Linked DNA regions of Homo sapiens: region 1 is linked to region 2. Evidence: fine-mapped QTL for protein levels in blood plasma. A gene starts in region 2. The other region holds a variant in brackets. All regions are shown on one strand. Distances are from middle to middle. Region 1 has its middle 13 kb from the start of DRAP1. Region 2 holds the start of CST6 (cystatin E/M).

Evidence for each region. PIP is the chance, under the fine-mapping model, that this variant and not a neighbour inherited with it causes the effect. The UK Biobank Pharma Proteomics Project read protein levels with antibody pairs (Olink). The fine-mapping took linkage between variants from a reference panel, not from the people measured, so its PIPs are less certain.
Region 1: its variant is fine-mapped to the plasma level of the CST6 protein (UK Biobank, PIP 0.96).

The regions. Positions count from the first base shown.
Region 1 is chr11:65,927,183-65,937,520 of GRCh38, reverse strand. No RefSeq gene overlaps it. Among named protein-coding and RNA genes, the nearest start is that of DRAP1, 13 kb to the right of the region's middle. RefSeq lists enhancers at 1-284, 9,109-9,403, 9,118-9,547 and a cis regulatory region at 9,084-9,649. The variant GTTTT/T (reference allele first, on the strand shown) is at 5,722.
Region 2 is chr11:66,006,249-66,016,586 of GRCh38, reverse strand. CST6 (cystatin E/M) reads right to left here and starts at 4,579. Exons shown (of 3, transcript NM_001323.4): 1 at 4,303-4,579; 2 at 3,636-3,761; 3 at 3,082-3,270. The coding sequence starts at 4,542. The coding sequence ends at 3,187. RefSeq lists enhancers at 2,522-3,097, 7,483-8,277 and a silencer at 8,935-9,229.

The DNA of each region.
Region 1 (10,338 bases), 79 kb after region 2:
AAAAAGCATCAATGGATGCAATGCGACTCTTGTTTTGCCTTTGTATTTTCTTCTTCATCTTTGATCCCCGCTCCATCCTATTTAAATGTGAATAGGCTGGGCGTGGTGACTCATGCCTGTAATCCCAGCACTTTGGGTGGCCGAGGCAGGTGGATCACTTGAGGTCAGGTGTTCGAAACCAGCCTGGCCAACATGGTGAAACCCCATCTCTACTAAAAATACAAAAATTAGCCAGGCGTGGTGGCACGTGCCTGTAATCCCAGCTACTCAGGAGGTTGAGGCAGGAGAATTGCTTGAACATGGGAGGCAGATGTTGCAGTGAGCTGAGAACATGCCACTGCATTGTAGCCTGGGCAACAGAGCAAGACTCTGAAAAAAATAAATAAATAAAGAGAGAAAGAAAGAAAGAGAGAGAGAAAGAAAGAAAGAAAGAAAAAGAAAGAAAGAAAGATGTTAACGGATCATTGTGAAGCTTTTATCATTTTTGTGTGTATGTATTTTTTGTTTATGTAAGTGGTATTGTGGTCCGGGTGCAGTGGCTCACGCCTGTAATCCCAGCACTTTGGGAGGTCAAGGTAGGTGGATTGCTGGAGTTCAGGAGTTGGAGACCAGCCTGAGAAACATGGTGAAACCCCAGCTCCACAAAAATATACAAAGAAATTAGCTGGGCATGGTGGCGTGTCCCTGTAGTTCCAGCTACTCGGGAGGCTGAGGCGGGAGGATCACCTGCGCCCAGGAGGTTGAGGCTGCAATGAGCTATGATCACACCACTGCACTCCAGTCTGGGTGACAGAGTGAAACCCTGTCTCAAGAAAAACATAAAAAATAAAACTAAGTATAAAAATAAATAAATGGTATTGTATGTATTTAATTTGCATAAGCAGTATTGATCTCATTTTTGTTCCTTACTCGTTTCCTTCAAAACTGTGCTTTAGGGTTTTTAAAATTTATTTTATTTTCTAGAGATAAGGCCTCACTCTGTCACCCAGGCTGGAGTGCAGTGGTGTGATTATAGCTCACTGCAGCCTCGAACTCCTGGGCTCAGGTGATCCTCTACCACAACCACAACGTCCTGAGTAGCTTGGACTACAGGCATGTGCCACCATGCCTGGCTACTTTAAAAAAAAATTAGTTTTGGAGAGACAGAGGTCTCACTATGCTGCCTAGGCTAATCTTGAACTCCTGGCCTCAAGGACTCCTCCCGCTTAAGCCTACTCAAAATGCTAGAATCAGGCTGGGCAAGGTGGCTTATGCATGTAATCCCAGCACTTTGGGAGGCCGAGGCAGGTGGATTACTTGAGGTCAGGAGTTCAAGACAAGCCTGGCCATCACTGTGAAATCCCGTCTCTACTAAAAATACAAAAATTAGTCGGGCATGGTGGCACACACCTGTAGTCCCAGCTAACTCAGGAGGCTGAAGCAGGAGAATCACTTGAACCCAGGCAGAGGTTGCAGCTAGCTGAGATCACACTACTGCACTCCAGCCTGGGTGACAGAACAAGACTCCATCTCAGAAATAAATAAATAAATAAATAAAAGCTGGAATTAGGCTGGGCGCGGTGGCTCACGCCTGTAATCCCAGCACTTTGGGAGGCCGAAGAGGGAGGATCACGAGGTCAGGAGATTGAGACCATCTTAGCTAACATGGTGAAACCCCGTCTCTACTAAAAATACAAAAAATTAGCCGGGCATGGTGGCGGGCGCCTGTAGTCCCAGCTACTCGGGAGGCTCAGGCCAGAGAATGGCGTGAACCCGGGAGGCAGAGCTTGTAGTGAGCCAAGATCATGCCACTGCACTCCAGCCTGGGCAACAGAGCGAGACTCCTTCTCAAAAAAAAAAAAAAAAAGCTGGAATTATAGGCATGAATCACCATGCCCCATCGTTTTGTTTTTAGAGACAAGGTCTCATATTGCCCAGGCTGGCCTCAAACTCCTGGGGTCAAGAGATCCTCCCGCCTCAGCATCCCAAGTATCTGGGATTATGGGCACATGCCACCCTCCGCTGCTAACACTGTGGTTTTTGTTTTTGTTTTTTGTTTTTTGATTTTTTTTTTTTTTGAGACAGAGTCTCGCTTTGTTGCCCAGGCTGGAGTGCAGTGGTGCAATCTTAGCTCGCTGCAACCTCCACCTCCCGGGCTCAAGCAATTCTCCTGCCTCAGCCTCCCAAGTAGCTGGGATTACAGACTTGCGTTACCATACCCAGCTAATTTTTGTATTTATTTTTTAGTAGAGACCAGGTTTCACCATGTTGGCCAGGCTGGTCTTGAACTGCTGACCTCAGGTGATCCGCCCGTCTCGGCCTCCCAAAGTGCTGGGAATACAGGCGTGAGCCACTGTGCCTGGCCCGCACTGTGTTTTAAAAGCCTTGTAGATCCTGACTGTTGCATAGTGTTCCGTAGTTTCCCTTTGTATGCTTTACTTAATTCATCCTTCTGACAATGGATGCCAGACTGGCTCCCAAGTCCTGTTCTCACAAAGAACACCGTGGTCAACACCGCTGCACATGCCTCTTTGTACACCTGAATGAGAATCTCTCTGGCCTACTTATCCAAGGCTGAGAGTGTAAGGTCTTGGCATAAACATACACCTAATTTCAGATTGCTTGAGAGAAGGGCTGTCAGTTTATGTGCCTACAGAAGACCAAGGATTTCTGTCTGCCCACATTCTCACCAAACATTGACATTATTCACCTTATGAATTTTGACTAACCCTGGGGTCATAAAATGAGGTCTGGTACTTTTTTTTTTTTTTCGAGACGGATTCTCGCTCTCTCGCTCTGTTACCCAGACTGGAGTGCAGTTGTGCAATCTCAGCTCACTGCAACCTCCACCACCCACGTTCAAAACAATTATCCTGCCTCAGCCTCCCGAGTAGCTGGGATTACAGGTATGTGCCACCACGACTGGCTAATTTTTGTAAAGATGGGGTTTCACCATGTTGGCCAGGCTGCCCTCGAACTCCTGACCTCAAGTGATTCACCCACCTTGGCCTCCCAAAGTGCTGGGATTACAGGTGTGAGCCACCGTGCCTGGCCAGAAATCCTTAATCTTTTTTTAAGTCTGGTAAAAAAAAAATCTTTAATTTTGATGGAGTTAGACTCATAAATGTTTTTGAATAGAGCTTTGTATTTTGAGAGTCTTTCTTTTCCTATCCCTAGGTGGGGTATTTTCCTATATTCTATTCTATTAGTTTACGCTTAACATCTGTGTCCATAACGAAATGCTCTGTGTACAGACTTTTCTGATACTGTCTTTATCTGGCTTGCGGGGGTCATACAAGAAATTGGGCAGCCTTCTCTCTTTCTGGCTTCTGTAACAACTGGTGTGAGATAAGGACCATCTGTTCCTCCAAAGGCTGGTAGAACTGCCCTATAAAAACATTTCTATTGGGTTTTTTCACATTGGAGTCTCAGATTACAAGTTTCTTTTTCTTTTAGTTTTTTTTTTTTTTTTTTTTTTGAGATGGAGTCTTGCTCTGTCGCCCAGGCTGGAGTGCAGTAGAGTGATCTCGGCTCACTGCAACCTCCACCTCCCAGGTTCAAGTGATTCTCGTGCCTCAGCCTCCCAAGTAGCTGGGATTACAGGCATGTGCCACCACATCCGGGTAATTTTTGTATTTTTAGTAGAGACAGAGTTTCACCATGTTGGCCAGGCTGGTCTCGAACTCCCAACCTCAGGTGATCTGCCTGCCTTAGCCTCCCAAAGTACTAAGATTATAGGCGTGAGCCACTGTGCCCGGCCTATTGTAGTGTTGTTGTTGTTGTTGTTTTCCCAAGAGACAGGGTCTCGCTATGTTTCCCAGGCTGATTTTATATTCCTCGCCTCAAATGATCCTTCTGCCTTAGCCTCCCAAAGTGCTGAGGTTAGGACGGGTGCAGTGGCTCACACCTGTAATCCCAGCACTTCGGAAGGCTTAGCCAGGTGGATCACCTGAGGTCAGGAGTTCGAGACCAGCCTGGCCAACGTGGTGAAACTCTGTCTCTACTAAAAATACAAAAAAATTAGCTGGGCGTGGTGGCTGGCGCCTTTAATCCCAGCTACTCGGAAGGCTGAGGCAGGAGAATCGCTTGAAAATGGGAGGCAGGGGTTGCAGTGAGCCGAGATTGCGCCACCACACTCCAGCCTGGGCAATAAGAGTGAGACTCCATCTCAAAAACAAAATAAAACAAAGTGCTGAGGTCACAGGCATGAGCTACTCAATTTTCTTTCCTGGTTATGGGTCTACTGAAGTTTTGATATTTTTGTGCCAATTTTGACATTTCACATTCTTCCAGAAAGGTATTTACTTTGCTTAAGTTTCTATATTTACCAACATACAATTATTTGTAATGTTTTTTGGTATTTTGATATTTTATGTTATTTGGAAATGGGGTTTTGCTATGTTGCTCAGACTGGACTCAAATTCCTGGGCTAGAACGATCCTATTGAGTAGCTGGGACTACAGGTGTGTGCCACTGTGCCCAGGTTGGTATTTTGATATTTTAAACCTCCATGGGGGGCTGGGCACGGTGGCTCACACCTGTAATCCTAGCACTTTAGGATGCCGAGTTGGGCAGATCGCTTGAGGTCAGAGGTTTGAGATCAGCCTGGCCAACATGGTGAAACCCCGTCTCTACTAAAAAAATACAAAACAATTAGCCAAGTATGGTGGCACACACCTGTAGTCCCAGCTACTCGGAAGGCTGAGGCTCAAGAATCACTTGAACCCGGGAGGCAGAGGTTGCAGCAAGCTGAGATCGCGTCATTGTATTCCAGCCTGGGCGACAGAGTGAGACTCCGCCTCAAAAAAATAAATAAATAAACCTCCATGGGGGGGTGCTCAAGAGTCAGATCACGTGGGGCCTGGGAGCCAGGGAAAGGATTCTGGGTTTGTCCTAAGGATGAACAGCGTGCAAGAATATTTGACTGAGGCTCTAGAATGGAATGGATATGAAATGCCAAAGTGAAGTGCTTGCTCCTGGCCAAACTGCAAAATTTTAAAGAAAGCAGAAACCCATGTTGCCACTGTCGAAGCCCCTCATCCACCGCAAGAGTATAAAGGGATCGAGGGTGGATTTGAAAGGGGCAGTTTGCGGTGATTTGATTTGGAAAGAGCTGCTATGGCAGTGAGTCTGCAGGGGGTGGAGCTGGGGAGCTGCCTTCTAACCTCAAATCTGGTGAGAAGTGCTTCAAGGAAGCCCCCCAGAGCGCTTGAGGTGGGCTTCCTGCAGTCATGGCACCCCCGTGGGTCATTGGTAGGAAAGGCCTCCAGAAAGGAGGTGACCTGCAGTGGGCACTGGACCGCAGGAATGGAAAAAGGGGTCTGGCCCCACGGGCTTGTTTTCTCTGGCACAGGGTATGCAACAGAGTGGGGTAGTGCATGCCACTTGAAAGAAAACCAGAGCCAGTCAACAGAGAGGGGCTGCCCCTTTGCCAGGAGTTTCAGTCAAGGGGGTAGTACATAAGGGAGCCCATAAAACCCCTGAGGGCAGGAGCCAGCTTTAGACAGCTGCCACCCAAGGAGTGAGATGCCATCTTACACCAGTGTCAATCCAGGATGCACTCTCTGCACCCACTGCCCTCCCTCCCTGTTCTCCAAAGGCAGCGTCTTCTCAAGCCTGGGAATGGGGCCAGGGAGAGGCGCAGACCCGACTTCCCTGACTCCTTATCAGTGGGGGCTGCAATGGCCAGAAGTGGAAAAAGCTGTGTTCGTTTTTTTTGTTTGTTTGTTTGTTTGTTTGTTT[GTTTT/T]GAGACAAGCTCTCGCTCTGTTGCCCAGGCTTGAGTGCAGTGGTGCTATCTTGGGTCCCTGCAGCCTCAAACTCAAGCGATCCCTGCAGCCTCAGCCTCACGACCAGCTGGGACTACAGGTGCGTACTACCACGCCCAGCCCAAGAATACTTCATTCTAAATCAAGTTCTGGGATTTGGCCACTACACAAAACTGGGCACTTTAATAGAGATTTGTTTAGTAACTTTAGGTGATCACAGGACGATGAGGAAATGGCAGCATAAGATGTAATGGCTGCACTCCCTCTGGCTGTGAGTAGAAATTAGACTGGAGGGCCTGGGGTGGAAACAGTGGCCTGTCATCCAGGAAGTGGGAGGGGAGGGGAAGGGAGGGGAAGGGAGGGCAGGGGAGAGGTCTGAGCCTGGGCCCACCACCATTCAGAGGTCAAGAGAGGTCAGGGAGATGTGGCCATGGAGACAAGACCACAGCCCACGGTGGGGAAGAAGATTGCCAAGAGAGGCCGGGCGCGGTGGCTCACGCCTGTAATCCCAGCACTTTAGGAGGATGAGGCGGCGGATCACAAGGTCAGAAGATCGAGACCATCCTGGCTCATACGGTGAAACCCCGTCTCTAGTAAAAATAAAAAAAATTAGCCATGCGTGGTGGCGGGCGCCTGTAGTCCCAGCTACTCGGGAGGCTGAGGCAGGAGAATGGTGTGGACCCGGGAGGCGGAGCTTGTAGTGAGCCGAGATGGCGCCACTGCACTCCAGCCTGGGTGAGAGTGCGAGACTCCGTCTCAAAAAAAAAAAAAGATTGCCAAGAGAGTGAGGGCCCCCATCCAAGTGAAGAAAGTGTTTCAAAGAGGAGGCAAGCGACCAACTATGACAAGAGCCACTGAGAGGTCAAGGCGAGCCCAAATGAGAACAACTGAATCGCCTGGACCCATTCTCCAAGGACTCATTGTGGGAGGCTTATTACAGGCTTTGGCTGTGCGAATGCGGCTGAGATTGGCCTTCACCACATCACACCGCAGGCCCCATCTGAAACTGTTCTTTTGCAGCTAAAGTCTAGGAAAAAATTTCTTTCCACTGAAGAAGTTTTCTCCGGAAAAAAAAAAAAAAGTTTTTTGCTTTGGCTGCCAGAAAGCTCAGAACTAAATTTGATATTGAATTAATAAAGCACTTTTACAGGCCTTTATGGGTTGCATATTTATATATGTATGCTATTGTTTCTGATCTTTATTTTCTCTTTTAATTATATTTTATTATTTTATTTAAAAAATTTTTTAATAATTTTTTTAGAGACAGGGTCTCACTATGTTGCCTAGGCTGGTATCAAACTCCTGGCCTCAAGTGATCCTCCTGCCTTGGCCTCCCAAAGTGCTGGGATTATGGTGTGAGCCATCCCATGTGGCCTAAATTTTTTTTTTTTTTTTTTTTTTCAGATAGAGTTTCGCTTTGTCACCAGGCTGGAGTGCAGTGGCACGATCTTGGCTCACTACAACCTCCATCTCCCGAGTTCAAGAGATTCTGCTGCCTCAGCCTCCCGAGTACCTGGGGCTGCAGGCGTGCACCACCACACCCAGCTAATTTTTGTATTTTTAGTAGAGACAGGGTTTCACCATGTTGGTCAGGATGGTCTCGATCTCTTGACCTCGTGATCCGCCCTCCTCAGCCTCCCAAAGTGCTGGGATTACAGGCATGAGCCACCACACCCGGCCTAAAATTTTTTGTTTTTAGAGATAAGATCTTGCTATGTTGCCCAGTCTGGACTCACATTCCTGGTCTCAAGTGATCCTCCCTCCTCGGGCCTCCAGAGTAGCTGGGAGTGCACCACTGGTAGCACGGGTGTATACCACTGCACCCATCCACATTCTTGAATCTCCATTTCTGTTTTTTAAATTTTACCTTCCTTGTTCTTGTTGGAAGCCACCTCAGGTGCACTGGGAATGTGGTTTGCAAATTAATCAATGGTATTTCATTTATTCGGCAAGCATACAATGATGTCTTGTAGTAGTCAGGTCTCTCTAGCATACAATTGGCCTAAATACATTATTAAAGATAAAAATAAATGTCTTCACCCATTCTCTGTTGCTTATAACAGAAAACCTGGAACTGGGTAATTTATTTAAAAAACGGAGTCTTGCTCTATCGCCCAGGCTGGAGTGCAGTGGTGCGATCTCGGCTCACTACAACCTCCACTGCCCAGGTTCTCGCAATTCTGCAGCCTCAGCCTCCTGAGTAGCTGGGATTACAGGCACCCACCACCACATCCAGCTAATTTTTGTATTTTTAGTAGAGATGGGGTTTTGCCATGTTGGCCAGGCTTGTCTTGAACTCCTGATCCCAGGTGATCTGCCTGCCTCAGCGTTCCAAAGTCCTGGGATTACAGGCGTGAGCGATTGCACCCGGCCACATGTGCTGTCTTGAGTCTCACGGCCACCCCTGACCAATGGCTGTGGGGAGGGTATCTTGACCAGCGGTCCTGGAGGTGCCACCTGGTTGGAGTGGGGTGGGCGTCAGTTCTCTAGGGATACGGATATGATTTGGGGTGGCCTGAAGGAAGAAGGGCAGGGCAGACCCATGCACAAAAACATGCCCACCACGTACCTACCACGTGCCAGGCCCTGTGAGACATCCTGGAGACACAGACGTGAATCCGACAGGCCCTGTGTCCCCAAGAGGGGCGCTTTCCAGAAGTGGAGGTGAAACCTGCAAGCACAGTTATCCCAGCCAGAGCATGGGAAGAAACTTGGAGAGGGGACAGGTGAAGGACTTGGGGAGTTCAAAGGATGAGGAGGGACTCTAGGTTCTGGCCTTGAGGAAGTAAGGTGAACTGAAATTGCCCTTTTTCTACAAACAGCTAAGAAACTGGACAAAGCACAGGAAACAAGTGTTTTCAGATATTAGACAAAGGGCAGCTCAGGGCTGTGATCCCTGAAAAACGGAAGATAAAGGGGAGGAGCCCTGACATTGCATAGGTGATTTTCCTACCACTGCACTGGGAGGGCAACCGTTGTTCTCACCGAGTTAAGAAGACGAGACCAGAGTTTGGGAAGGCTCATCTTCAGGGCTTCTGATCTAACTGAAGACAGGCCCAGATATGGGTATTTTAAAGTTCCCCAGGGTCGGCCGGGCACAGTGGCTCAGGCCTGTAATCCCAGCACTTTGGGAGGCCGAGGCGGGTGGATCACTTAAGGTCAGGAGTTTGAGACCAGCCTGGTCAACATGGTGAGAACTTGTCTCTACTAAAAATACAAAAAATTGCCAGGCGTGGTGGCGAGTAGCCTCCCCAGCTACTGGGGAGACTGAGGCAGAAAGGAGAATCACTTGAACCTGGGAGGCAGAGGTTGCAGTGAGCCAAGATCGCGCCACTTCACTCCAGTCTGGGAGACAGAATGAGACCCTGTCTCAAAAAAAAAAAAAAGAAAAAAAGAAAAAAAAGCTCCCCAGGGTTCTAAGATGTAGCCAGGGTTGAGAACCACTAGGCTAATCTGCAACTCCAGACAAAGGCGGAAGGGGGGCAGGGAACCCACAAAACAGAAACCAAACTCTAAGAAAACGGGTAAGAGGAAAGTGAAACCGACTCTGGGCACCAGGCTGGAATGGAAGAGCATCTGTGGCTAAAAACAGGGCAGCCGCACCCCCCTGGAGGAACCAGGGCCCTGCCCACCCACTTGCTTGCTGCGGCTTCAACACGCTGGCCTCCTCGGGGTCCCCTCTCCCCACTACCCCTGGAGAGGCGTGAATGTACCTATTTGTTTACCATCAGTCTGCTGCCCCTTCCCCCAACTGGACTGAGCTAGGGAGCAGAGGCTCTGTGTGTTTTCTCTGAGTTCACCTTCCCCAAGCCCAGAGCAGGGCCCGGCACAGAGTAGGTACTCAGCAAATATTTCTTGAGTGACTGAATGAAGACAATGTATGATCCCATGAATCCTGCAGGGCCATGCTTTACCCTGCCCTATGTGATGCTGTCCCCTGAGGTTGGGCCCATTCTGACAATGTCTTTTCTGTTTTTTCAACACAGGGTGCATAGAATCAAGCAGACATGCGCCTTAGTTTGGGGCACTCCATGCAGCCATAGGGCCCTGAAAAGCTTCCCTTTTCTTTTCTTTTTTGTTTGTTTGTTTGTTTGTTTGAGATGGAGTTTCGTTCCTGTTGCCCAGGTTGGAGTCCCATGGCACGATCTTGGCTCACCGCAACCTCCGCCTCCCGGGTTCAAGCAATTCTCCTGCCTCAGCCTCCCGAGTAGCTGGGATTACAGGCATGCGCCACCATGTCCGGCTAATTTTGTATTTTTAGTAGAGATGGGGTGTCTCCATGATGGTCAGGCTGGTCTGGAACTCCCAACCTCAGGTGATCCGCCCACCTTGGCTGCCCAAAGTGCTGGGATTACAGGCTTGAGCCACCACACCCAGCCTAAAGCTTCCCCTTTCAATGGACTCTCCCCTTCCCTGCATCCCAGTCCTACTCCTGCTGCTTTGAGCCACGACATCCCCTTGTCTGTTTAGTACATGCCCTTCCAATCTGCTTTCCAGGATCTTATTTCCATAAATGTCCATAACAGCAGGCACCATTTATTGGGTGCTTACTGTATGCCAGGCACTGTGCTGAGCGACTTACATATCATATCTC
Region 2 (10,338 bases):
CAGCTGGAGGGATGAAGCAGAACGTGGGCTGAGCTCAGGTGCCGGCGGTGCCGGGAGGGCCGAGGAGGCAGTAACCCTGCTTTGGGGAGGAAGGCCCATCTGGCCCAAGAGTCAGGAGAAAAAGAATAGGCCTGAACACCCCAGGGTTACCAGGGCCTGGGGGCCCAATAGGCTCTAGGAATGGGGACTCAGAGCCCAGGAACTCAATCCTACCAGGACCCTCAGCTCCAGTAGAAGAGCACCAACCGGATGGGGATATCATGAACCCAGAGGTCGGAGGTCATTGCCATATCCTGCCCTTTCTGGGGTCAGACTCTAGAGCCCCACTGAGGGGAGGTGGAGTCGGGGCTGCTCAAGTCCTTCTGGCCTCAGGGCAAGGGGCGGGCAGGGATGTGTGGAGGACCCTGCTGCTGGGAGAGGGAAGCAGGGAATGAGGCTGAAGGCTGCGCCCCATTGCCTGCTCTAGGACTTAGATGACCTCCCCGACTGATAGCCTGAGCCTAGGCTGGATGTCCAGAGCCCCTGTCCCCATGGCTGGGGGTGACAGTGGGACACTGGCCTATGCTGGGTGCTGGAGACCTAGCACTGAGTCAAGTTCAAGCCTCGCCCTGGCCCCAGGGGTCTCTCCTTAAGTGGAGGGTTTTCCATTATCTACAACAGCCATCTCACCTCTAGTAGAGGCGAATCCAGGGTGCAGTTCAGGCCGGAGGGAGTCAGGAGCGGGAGCTGAAGGGCAATAGTTTTTTGCCAACCCTCCCATCTCTGGACCAGACCAGTCAGTGCTGGAGCTTCCAGGGTCCCAGGACAGAAGAAGCACCTCCCCTCCCTGGTCTGGCGGAAGGCACTGGCTGGCCCAGGGCCCAGGGCCCAGGAATAGACTATGCGGAGGAAATGCCATCTGGGATTTGGGCACAGATTCCAGGGGCGGAGAGGTCACCGGGCAGGCGTCTCTGGGCCTTGCTTCTCTCCACCACCTCACACATTCATTCAACAGGCATTTCCTGCCACCCACCCTGTGCCTGCCCCATGCTGGGAGTCCCTGCTTGGTGGCACATGGGAGCCCTTCCAAGCAGCAGGCCCCGCACACACCCTGGGCTGTCTGAGCTGCCACATCTGACAAGCTTGAGCAGAAGCAGGGCTGGATGTTGTCTCCTGGGTCCCCAGCTCCTGTCAAATGCCACCCCTCAGCTTCTCACTCCCAGGTGGGACCCAGGGTCTACTTCCCGTTTCCCCGTCTCTACCCCAATCTGGCCTCCAAAGGCCGACAGCAGGGCCTGGGAGCTGGGGCTGCTGCTTATTAGGCCCCAGCCTTGGGCAGGGGACCAGGCAGGCACAAGCAGGGTGTGAGGCCTTGTCAGAAAGGAAGGACCGTGGGATGCTCTCCGCAGCCACTGCAGTGCTGCCTGCCTGGGCCTGATGGTGCCTATACCTAGCACCCCCAAGGCCCATATCCCAAGTGTGGGTGTGTGCTTGTGCATCTGAGGAACCTCTGGGTGTGGCATGTGGGTCCTTGGGTTGTGTTTGAGTTTTGTGTGTACATCTCCAGGTTGTTTCTCTAGGGTGTGTTGCTTCTGTGCTCATGAGTTGCTAGGCTGTGTTTCTCTGGGTATGCATGTGATATCTGCCAGCATCTGAGTGTGTGCTCTGGGTGTCTGTGTGTGTATGTCTGGTGTGTTGTGCTTTGGGTGTGTGCGTGTGTATATGTATGGGGGGGTATGAATTGCAGCCACAAATTCAGATGTGCAAATGTTGCAATGCTGTTTTCTTCTTCTTTTTTTATTTTTAATTTTTTTGAGATGGAGTCTCGCTCTGTCTCCCAGACTGGAGTGCAGTGGCGCAATCTCGGCTCACTGCAACCTCTGCCTCCTGGATTCAAGCGATTCTCCTACCTCAGCTTCCTGAGTAGCTGAGATTACAGGCACCTGCCACCACACCCAGATAATTTTTGTATTCTTGGTTGAGATGGGATTTCACCATGTTGGCCAGGCTGGTTTTTTTTTTTTTTTTTTTTTTTTTGAGATGGAGTCTGGCTCTGGCGCCCAGGCTGGAGTGCAGTGGCGCCATCTCGGCTCACTGCAAGCTCCACCTCCCGGGTTCACGCCATTCTCCTGCCTCAGCCTCCCGAGTAGCTGGGACTACAGGCGCCCGCCACTACACCCAGCTAATTTTTTGTATTTTTAGTAGAGACGGGGTTTCACCGTGTTACCCAGGATGGTCTCGATCTGCTGACCTCGTGATCTGCCCGCCTCGGCCTCCCAAAGTGCTGGGATTACAGGCGTGAGTCACCGCGCCCGGCCACCAGGCTGGTCTTGAACCCCTGACCTCAGGTGATCCATCCACCTCAGCCTACCAAAGTGCTGGGATTACAGGTGTGAGGCCGGCTGCAATGCTGTTTTCTTTAAATGACATTACATTGAATCTGTCCCCTCACCCCTCCTGTGGGCGCTAGACAATCTCTGTCCCTCTGCGGCTCCTAGTCTAGCCCCTTTCAGGCGTCTTGCCCAGGGCAAGGCAAGAGAGGCGTCCTTGTGGCGTGGAGCCCACAGTGTGGACTGAGAGGCACTGTCCTAGCCTTCATGGTCTCTTGGCCTGCAGGGACTCTGCCATCGTTGGGCCACATGCAGGTGGAGGAATCTTTATAGGCTGGGAGCTCAGTGTCCTGGGTGAGGACACTGCCTGATTGAAGCCCCCCATGCCACCCATGAGCTCCTCCTGGGGCTGAGTGGGAGCACAGCACAGACTCCTCCTCAGAGTGCTCCCAGGCAGCCGGCCCTGTTCTTATCTCAGGCCATCGCCCCTCCTCTGTGAGTCTGCCGCCACCCCTGACCTCTGAGAATATTGGGAGTCTCTGGCTGTGTGTGGGGGCTCTAAGGTTTGTTCCTCTATGCCTGTGATGCTGGGGTGTTTGGGGGCTCCACATTTGGAGGCTCAGCCCTGCACCTTCAGCACTGTCTGGGCTGGGACAGCAGCAGCTCTGCTGCAGGTGGCAGGGTGACCTCTCAGCTTGGGCTGGGGAGCTGGGAGCTGCCAGAAGTGGGAGTGGGGGATGGGGGCAGAAGCGAAGCACTTGGAAGAAACCAATGCAAGAAGCAGCACTGGCCATTTATTGTGACAGATACGGCCCACGGACCTGAAGTGCCCTCCACCATGGCCCCAAACCCAATGGCCTTCGCCCTCGGGGACTTATCACATCTGCACACAGTTGTGCTTTAGGAGCTGAGAGGAGTTCTGCCAGGGAACCACAAGGACCTCAAAGTCACAGCGCAGCTTCTGTGGAGGGAATATGGGGGAGAAGGAGGGGTGAGCCCAGCCTCGACCTGTCTCCTCCCAACAGCCAGCCCTCTGCCTGCCAGGCTGCTCCAGGCCAAGAGAGGGACAATCACTGACCCAACGGATGTCAAGCCGCATGTCTGGGGCTAGACTCCAGATCTTGGTAGCCAACTTCCCCATTCCCGAGGGAAGCCCCAGCTTCCTTTCTGCACCCCATCTTGGCCCAGAGGCTGACTCATCCAGAAGGACGACAGGTTCAGCCAGACATCTAGACATCTACGTGTCCAGCCAAACCAGTTCAGGATGGACAACCTGAGTGCCTGAGGCTCTGGGGAGGGCTGGGGCTGGAGGAGCCCAGCTGTTACCTCCTGCTGCGCCCCTGCTGCCAGGGGGCAAGTGGTGAGGTCGACGTGGTCTCCAGTGACCCTGGTCTTGCGGCAGTCTGTGCTCCCCATCTCCATCGTCAGGAAGTACTTGATGCCGGCCACCAGCTGGGGGCATAGGGTAGGGGCAGGTCAGGGGTCTTGACCCTTGATCCTCACTTCTCACCTCTTGATATATTCTCCTGTTGCCCCCAGGCACTCAGGTGGGGAGAGAGGGAGAGGGGATGATTCAGACGGGGTGGGGGGGGGTGGGGGGGGGTGGGGGGGGGAGTTCTGGTGGGGATGGAGGGTGGAGAGGCCTGGAGGCTGAGCCCCACCAGCAGCCTTGGCAGACATCAGACATGCCCCATCTAGGGAGCTGCCCACTGTCCCCACCTGCCTTCCCTCCTCCCCGATCCACCCCATCAGGGCAGAGACTAGGACCAGGCAAGCCAGGAAGGCAGGTAGTGCAATACAGGGTTTAATTATGTCTTTCCTTGAAATTTAGATGGTTGTCCATCGTGGAGTTTTAGCATTAATTCGATTTTTAAAATATTGCATGAAAATATCCCGATTGCGCTTTTAGGCCCCCTTCATGCACGCTGGGGCAGCGCCTGTGGCCTCCCCCATCTGGGCCGGGTGTCCCCTCCCAGCACCCCGCCCGCCGCACCTGGCTCTGCGCCTTGATGATGTGCGTGTCTCGGAAGTAGTAGATGCTGTTGCTGCCCATGTTGTAGCTGGCCACGGCCGCCTGCGCCGCCTTCTGCACCTGCGGGTCGTCGGGCGACAGGTCCCGGAGTTCTCCGACCATGCGCTCCTGCGGCCGGGCCCGGGCGTCGCGTGGCAGCGCCAGGAGGCAGAATGCGACCAGGGCCAGGCCCAGCGCCAGCGGGAGGTTCGAACGCGCCATGGCCGTCAGTGCCGTCGGAGCCCTCAGAGCCGTGAGTGCCGAGCTTGCGGCCGCGCAGCTTTTACCCGCTGGGCCGCCCCGCCCGACGCCCGCGATGCGCCCCCGCGGCCTGGAGCTGGGGCGGGGCTCGAAGTTGCCGGGGTCCTGCGAGGTTCAGGGAGCCCAGGAGGCCGAGGGGGCGGCGCGCACCCGCGTGCCAAGACGCTTCCCTGCCCTCCAGGACACACCTGGCCCGGGGAGGGAGAGGACAGCGACAGTCCCCAGCAACAAGTGCCAGTACAGGGACGGTTCACGGGAGGGCTGTCCAGAATGAACTACCAACCGCAGCTCTTCGTGGGCTCTTACTGTTGCCACCATTTCCTAGCTGTGTAACCTCGGAGAAGTCACTTAACCACTCGCTGCCTCAGTTTCCTCTTCTGTACAATGGGTGTTGTGAGGATTCAGTGAGCTGAAACAGGTAAAGTTCTTAGAAGAGGTCTGGTGCTGGATAAACAGCAGGTGAGTAGGACACATTACTGCTCAGCGCTGCCTGACAACCTTCCTGGAGCGCGAGTGACTAATGTTTCTACCTGGCCAGGCACCTAGGCATGCTTGTAATTCCAGCACTTTGAGAGGCCAAGGTGGGAGGACCACTTGAGCCAAGGAGTTCAAGTCAGTGAATCGTGATCTCACCACTGCAGCATTCCAGCCTGGGCGACAGAGCTAGACGCTGACTCAAAAAAAAAAAAAAAAAAAAAAAAAAAAAAGAAGGCCGGGCATGAGGGCTCACACTTGTAATCCCAGCACTTTGGGAGGCCGAGGCAGGCAGATCACTTGAGGTCAGGAGTTCAAGACCAGCCTGGCCAACATGGTGAAACCCCGTCTCTACCAAAAATACAAAAATTAGCCAGGCGTGGTGGCACACACCTGAATTCCCAGCTACTCAGAAGGCTGAGGCAGGGGAATTGCTTGAACCTGGGAGGCAGAGGTTGCAGTGAGCCAAAATGGCACCACTGCGCTCTAGCCTGGGTGACAGAGAGAGACTCTGTCTCACAAAAAAAAAAAAGAAAAAAGAAAAAAAATAGTTTCCACTTTACAGAGAAGGGAAAATGGATTTGCCCAAAGACACCGGCAGGAAATAAATGGTGACACTGGCTTGTGTGTGCTGACAGTCTAAGTCAAATCTGTGGTCTTAAACCAGACTGAGCCCACAGGACACAAACTGCCCAGAAGGAGGGGGTGTCAGTCATGTCAGCTCTGCCATCTTACTGACGGCATGGCTTTGGGCAAGTCCCTCAACCTCCCACACAGAGCCTCCGTGCCCTCGTCTGAAAGACACCTTATCTCCTAAGTTTGTTCTGATATTGATGTTTCGAATCTGGCTGTCCCGTGGATACAGTGAGCATGTGCTGGAGGTACCAGCAAACAAGGCCCATGACTGTGTTTTTAAAGACTCCAATAATTGCCAGGTGTGGTGGCTCACGCCTGTAATCCCAGCACTTTGGGAGGCCGAGGTGGGCAGATCACTTGAGGCCAGGAGTTCGAGACCAGCCTGGCCAACATGGTGAAACCCCATCATAGCCCGCACGGACCTAGGGGGACTGAACAAAGCCGGGCAAACGTGGGAATAAAAGACAAGAGACAAAAGAGTATATTTGGAAGAAGGGGTCAGGGGGCACCTTGCCTCTAGTGGACAAGGGCCCTGAGCTTTACACAGCCCTCTGTATGTAGTAGGCAAAAGAGATAGCGAGAAAGGGGGAGGGTGATTGTCGGGTATGTCAGGTAATTGTCGGTCAGCACTTTGGTTCACAGCAGGCTTGTGAGACTGCATCCTTTGAACAATAGGTGCTAATTTTCTCAGTAGATAACTTCAGGGACCCCAGTGCCAAGGAGTAAGGCCCTCAGCAAACCTTTTGGTGGCAGGGCAGTGGGAGTTTGCCCACATCCTGCATTCGTGATAAACAGGTGGCTGTTTGATCATATAGCCTTCAGTGGAATGCTGAGTTGGTCACAATCCCTTTGGCCCTTTCGGCTCCCAACACCCCATCTCTACTAAAAATACAAAAATTAGCTGGGTGTGGTGGTGCACACCTGTAGTCTCAGCTACTTGGGAGGCTGAGGTGGGTGAATCACTTGAACCTGGGAGGCAGAGGTTGCAGTGAGCTGAGACGGCACCCACTGCACTCCAGCCTGGGTGACAGAGCAAGACTCTATCTCAAAAAAAAAAGACTCCAATAATTAATTGATTATTATTAATAGGTGGTGATCTATTAATCACACGGTAGCTCACACCTGTAATCCCAGGACTTTGGGAGTCGGAAGCAGGAGGATCACTTGAGGCCAGGAGTTTGAGACCAGCCTGGGCAACATAGTGAGCCGTCTCTACCAAAAAATCTAAAATAAATTAGCTGTGCATGGTGGTGCACGCCTGTGGTCCCAGCTACTCGGGAGGCTGAGGTGGGAGGATTACTAGAGTCTGGGAGGTCGAGGCTGCAGTGAGCAGTGATGGTGCCACTGCACTCCACCTGGGTGACAGAGCAAGACTCTGTCTCAAAAAAAAAAAGGAACAGATGAAAAGCAGTGTTGAAGTAGTCAACGCAAGAAAAGTCTGGATTTTGTTGAATTTTTTTTTTTTTTTGTGACAGCGCTCTGTCAGCCAGGCTAGAGTGCAGTGGCGCTATCATAGCTCACTATAACTCGACTTCCTGGCTTCAAGCTATCCTCCCATCTCAGCCTCCCAAGTAGCTGGGACCACAGGCGCATGCCCCCATGCCTGGTTAATTTTTTTCCACACCTGGCTAATTCTTATATTTTTTTGTAGAGATGGGGTCTCACAGTAGTGCCAGGTGGGTCTCGAATGCCTGGCCTCAAGAGATCACGAGATCCTCCCACCTCAGCTTCCCAAAATGCTGGGATTACAGGCAGGCCTTGGAATTATTTGTCTGCATTTTAGAGTTCAGTGTAGTTTGTATTTGTAATTCCATGTTGCTGGGGGGCGGGGCTTATTGTCCCTGGGGCACTAAGATCTTGCAGTGCTTAGAGCCTCCAGGGGCTTCACTGGGGCTTGGAAGAGGTGCTAGGTCACAGTACGTAAAGAGCAGCTGGCAACTGTCACTGTGATGGATATTGTATGTAGGCATCCAGCGTGTCACCCTCCCTTCCTGATTCTGGGCCTTAGAATCCCAGGACCACAAAAGGAAGTGATTTCCCACACAGAGACCTAGACCACAGCGGTCACTCACTGCCCAGGGCAGCTGCCAGCCTGCTACCCACCTCACTTCCTCAGCCCAGCTGTGGAAAACCAACTCTGCCATCTTCCTGGGATTCCAAGGAACCGTCACAAGTTCCTGGCGGCCTCAGGTGTCTGGCTTAAAGGGACAGACTCCAGTTTGTGGAAGTGCTGGCCGAGCTTGAGTTGATCAGGAGGATGACGCCTGGCCAGGACTCTGAGCTGAAAGCCTGGGAGGGGTAGAGGAAGAGTACCAGGATCGTGCCACAGGGGCGAGGTGGGAGAGGCAGCTCCCCTGGGCCTGCTGTGTCATCACTTGGAGCTTAGCCATGGCCACAGGTACCTCCAACAGCTCTCTCAAAAACTAGCCAAGGCCTGTCTGCCACTCACCAAGGGCACCCACTCCACCTGCCTCTGCTTTGTGCTGATGCAAAGGACTTTTTTTGCAGTACAACCTAGCAATTTCTGAGCACTTTTCACCCACTGATTCTCACAAGCACCCTGAGGGAGTACACATTATCCTCACTTTGCAGATGAAGAAGTTAATCAGAGAGGTCGGGACACTTGTCTAAGGTCACACAGCTAGAAGTGGTATCTTGGTAAGAAAAGGTGGGGAGGATTAACAATGGTAAGAACTCTTGCTGTGTGCCAGGCCTTGCGCCAGGGATTCAATATATGTTCTTTCATTCCCATAGCAGCTCTGCACAGACAATGACTATTATCTCTTCCTACAAGGAGGAAATGGGAGATCAAAGGGGAAAGGTTAGTGGTGGGTCCCGGTGCATGAGTCCTGGGCTGCTCCACAGGGGTTTGAGGTCTGCTGTGCATGGTGTAGGGGTTGTTTCTTGCAGATGGGGTGTCCCTGAGCAGACTTTCCCAGGGCCTGACTCCATCCCGTCTGGACCACTCTGGCTTCCAGGAGGTTTGCGCCAAGCGTGAGCTTGAGGTCGGTCAAATGTACTGGCCACAGGGCAGAGCCTCCAGTTTTGCAGTGGCCCAGACATCCCACCCCAGGTTGTCCACAGCACCCCTCTCTTGCCCCTGGCCTGATGGGTGGAGATGACCAGGGCAGGTTCTTGACATCTCCTTCCCTCTGGGATCAGGCTCTCCAAGGCTTCGATGCTTCCCCCAGAACCCTCTTCCTTGAACCTTCAGTTGGGCAGAGGATATTGCCCTCCCCCCAGGGCTCTGTAGCCCCATATCCTGGAAAGGAGATCTTTCAGCAAGGAAACCTGTAATCCAACAGGGATTAAAGCTCCCCTCTGGGGAGGAGCGCTCCTAAGCGCTGCTGATTCACTGGTTGAATCTTCACAACCCTGTTATCAGCTGGCAGAGGAGGCTGTAGCTCAGGGGAGTGAAGCAACTTGCTCCAGATCGCATGGGGAGCAAAGCCCCAGAATCGGGCCTGGCTGGCTCTTCAAGGCTGCCACCAGTCAAGGTTGGGAGTGACAGGAAAGAGCCCTGGTCCCCACAGGGAGGGGCCAGCCTGGAAAGGGATCAACAGTCACAAGCACCTGCTGGGAGCCTTCCATGCTCAGCAGGCTGCCGGGGGCAGGGCTTGTGGTGGTCCAGGTAGCCTCCCCCTACTTCCTTTCTGGGGGCAGCAGGAGCCCTTCAGCACCCCAGAGTGCATGGGCTGGGTTCACACGAAGTTCTAGGCTGGCTCTGAGCACTCATGACTAGACCAGCTGAGGGGGTCAAGCTCTGGCTGGGTGTGATGGGGGGATGGGGTCAGTATTTGCTGATTTCTGGGCCCACCTATGTCCCAGGCTAGTGGGTGGCCAGGCATGTCCTCTTGGACACCACGGGCTGACACTGAGACAACCTGACTCATACCCCTCACCAGCCAGGTCTGCTTTCTGCGCCAGCATTCCAAGCCGTGGTCCCTTTGTCCTGCTGGCTGAGTCGGGCTGGATCTGAGAGGCCACACTGTCACAAGGTACATTCTAGATGCCCTTTGTCTACTGCTGTCCCAGGACAGAGCCAAGAACTTGTGTGGGATGCAATATGGAGTCCTGATAAAGGGTTTGTGGCCTGCCACCTGGTATATGCACTGCCTGTGCCCCAAGGGAGAGGTGAGAAGGCAGGTTCCAGTCCCTTCTATGGCAAAGCCTGTGGGTGAGCCGGGAAAGGCAGACAACAAGGAAATAAAGCAGACAGCATGAGCCGCAGGCTTCCAGCAGGGTCCCAGTGCCACCAGGCGAGGCCAAACCAGGAGGCCAGCGTGGGCAGGAGCCCAGGGAAGGGCTTCATGGAGGAGGAGTCTCCATGACCTCACAGAGCACCAGCAACAAGCTGGCAGCATCAGGACTGAGGTGTGGTGAGGCCGGAGCCCTGCAAAGCCCCCACCTAAGCACACAAGGCCTGCGACAGCATCATAGCATGAGGGTCAAGGCTGAGGGGACTTAGCCGGGAAGACATCAGAAACAGTCTGAAACTCAAGAGAGAGCCCTCGTGACCACCTCAGCCGGGACTCAGACCAGCAGCCTCCCAGGAAGCGGCTTGAAGCACAAGCTGGGCCCTGCTGCAGTCACCTGGTGTCCCTTTCAAGCTGGGCCACTCGCACTTTCCAGTCCCAGCCTTGCACA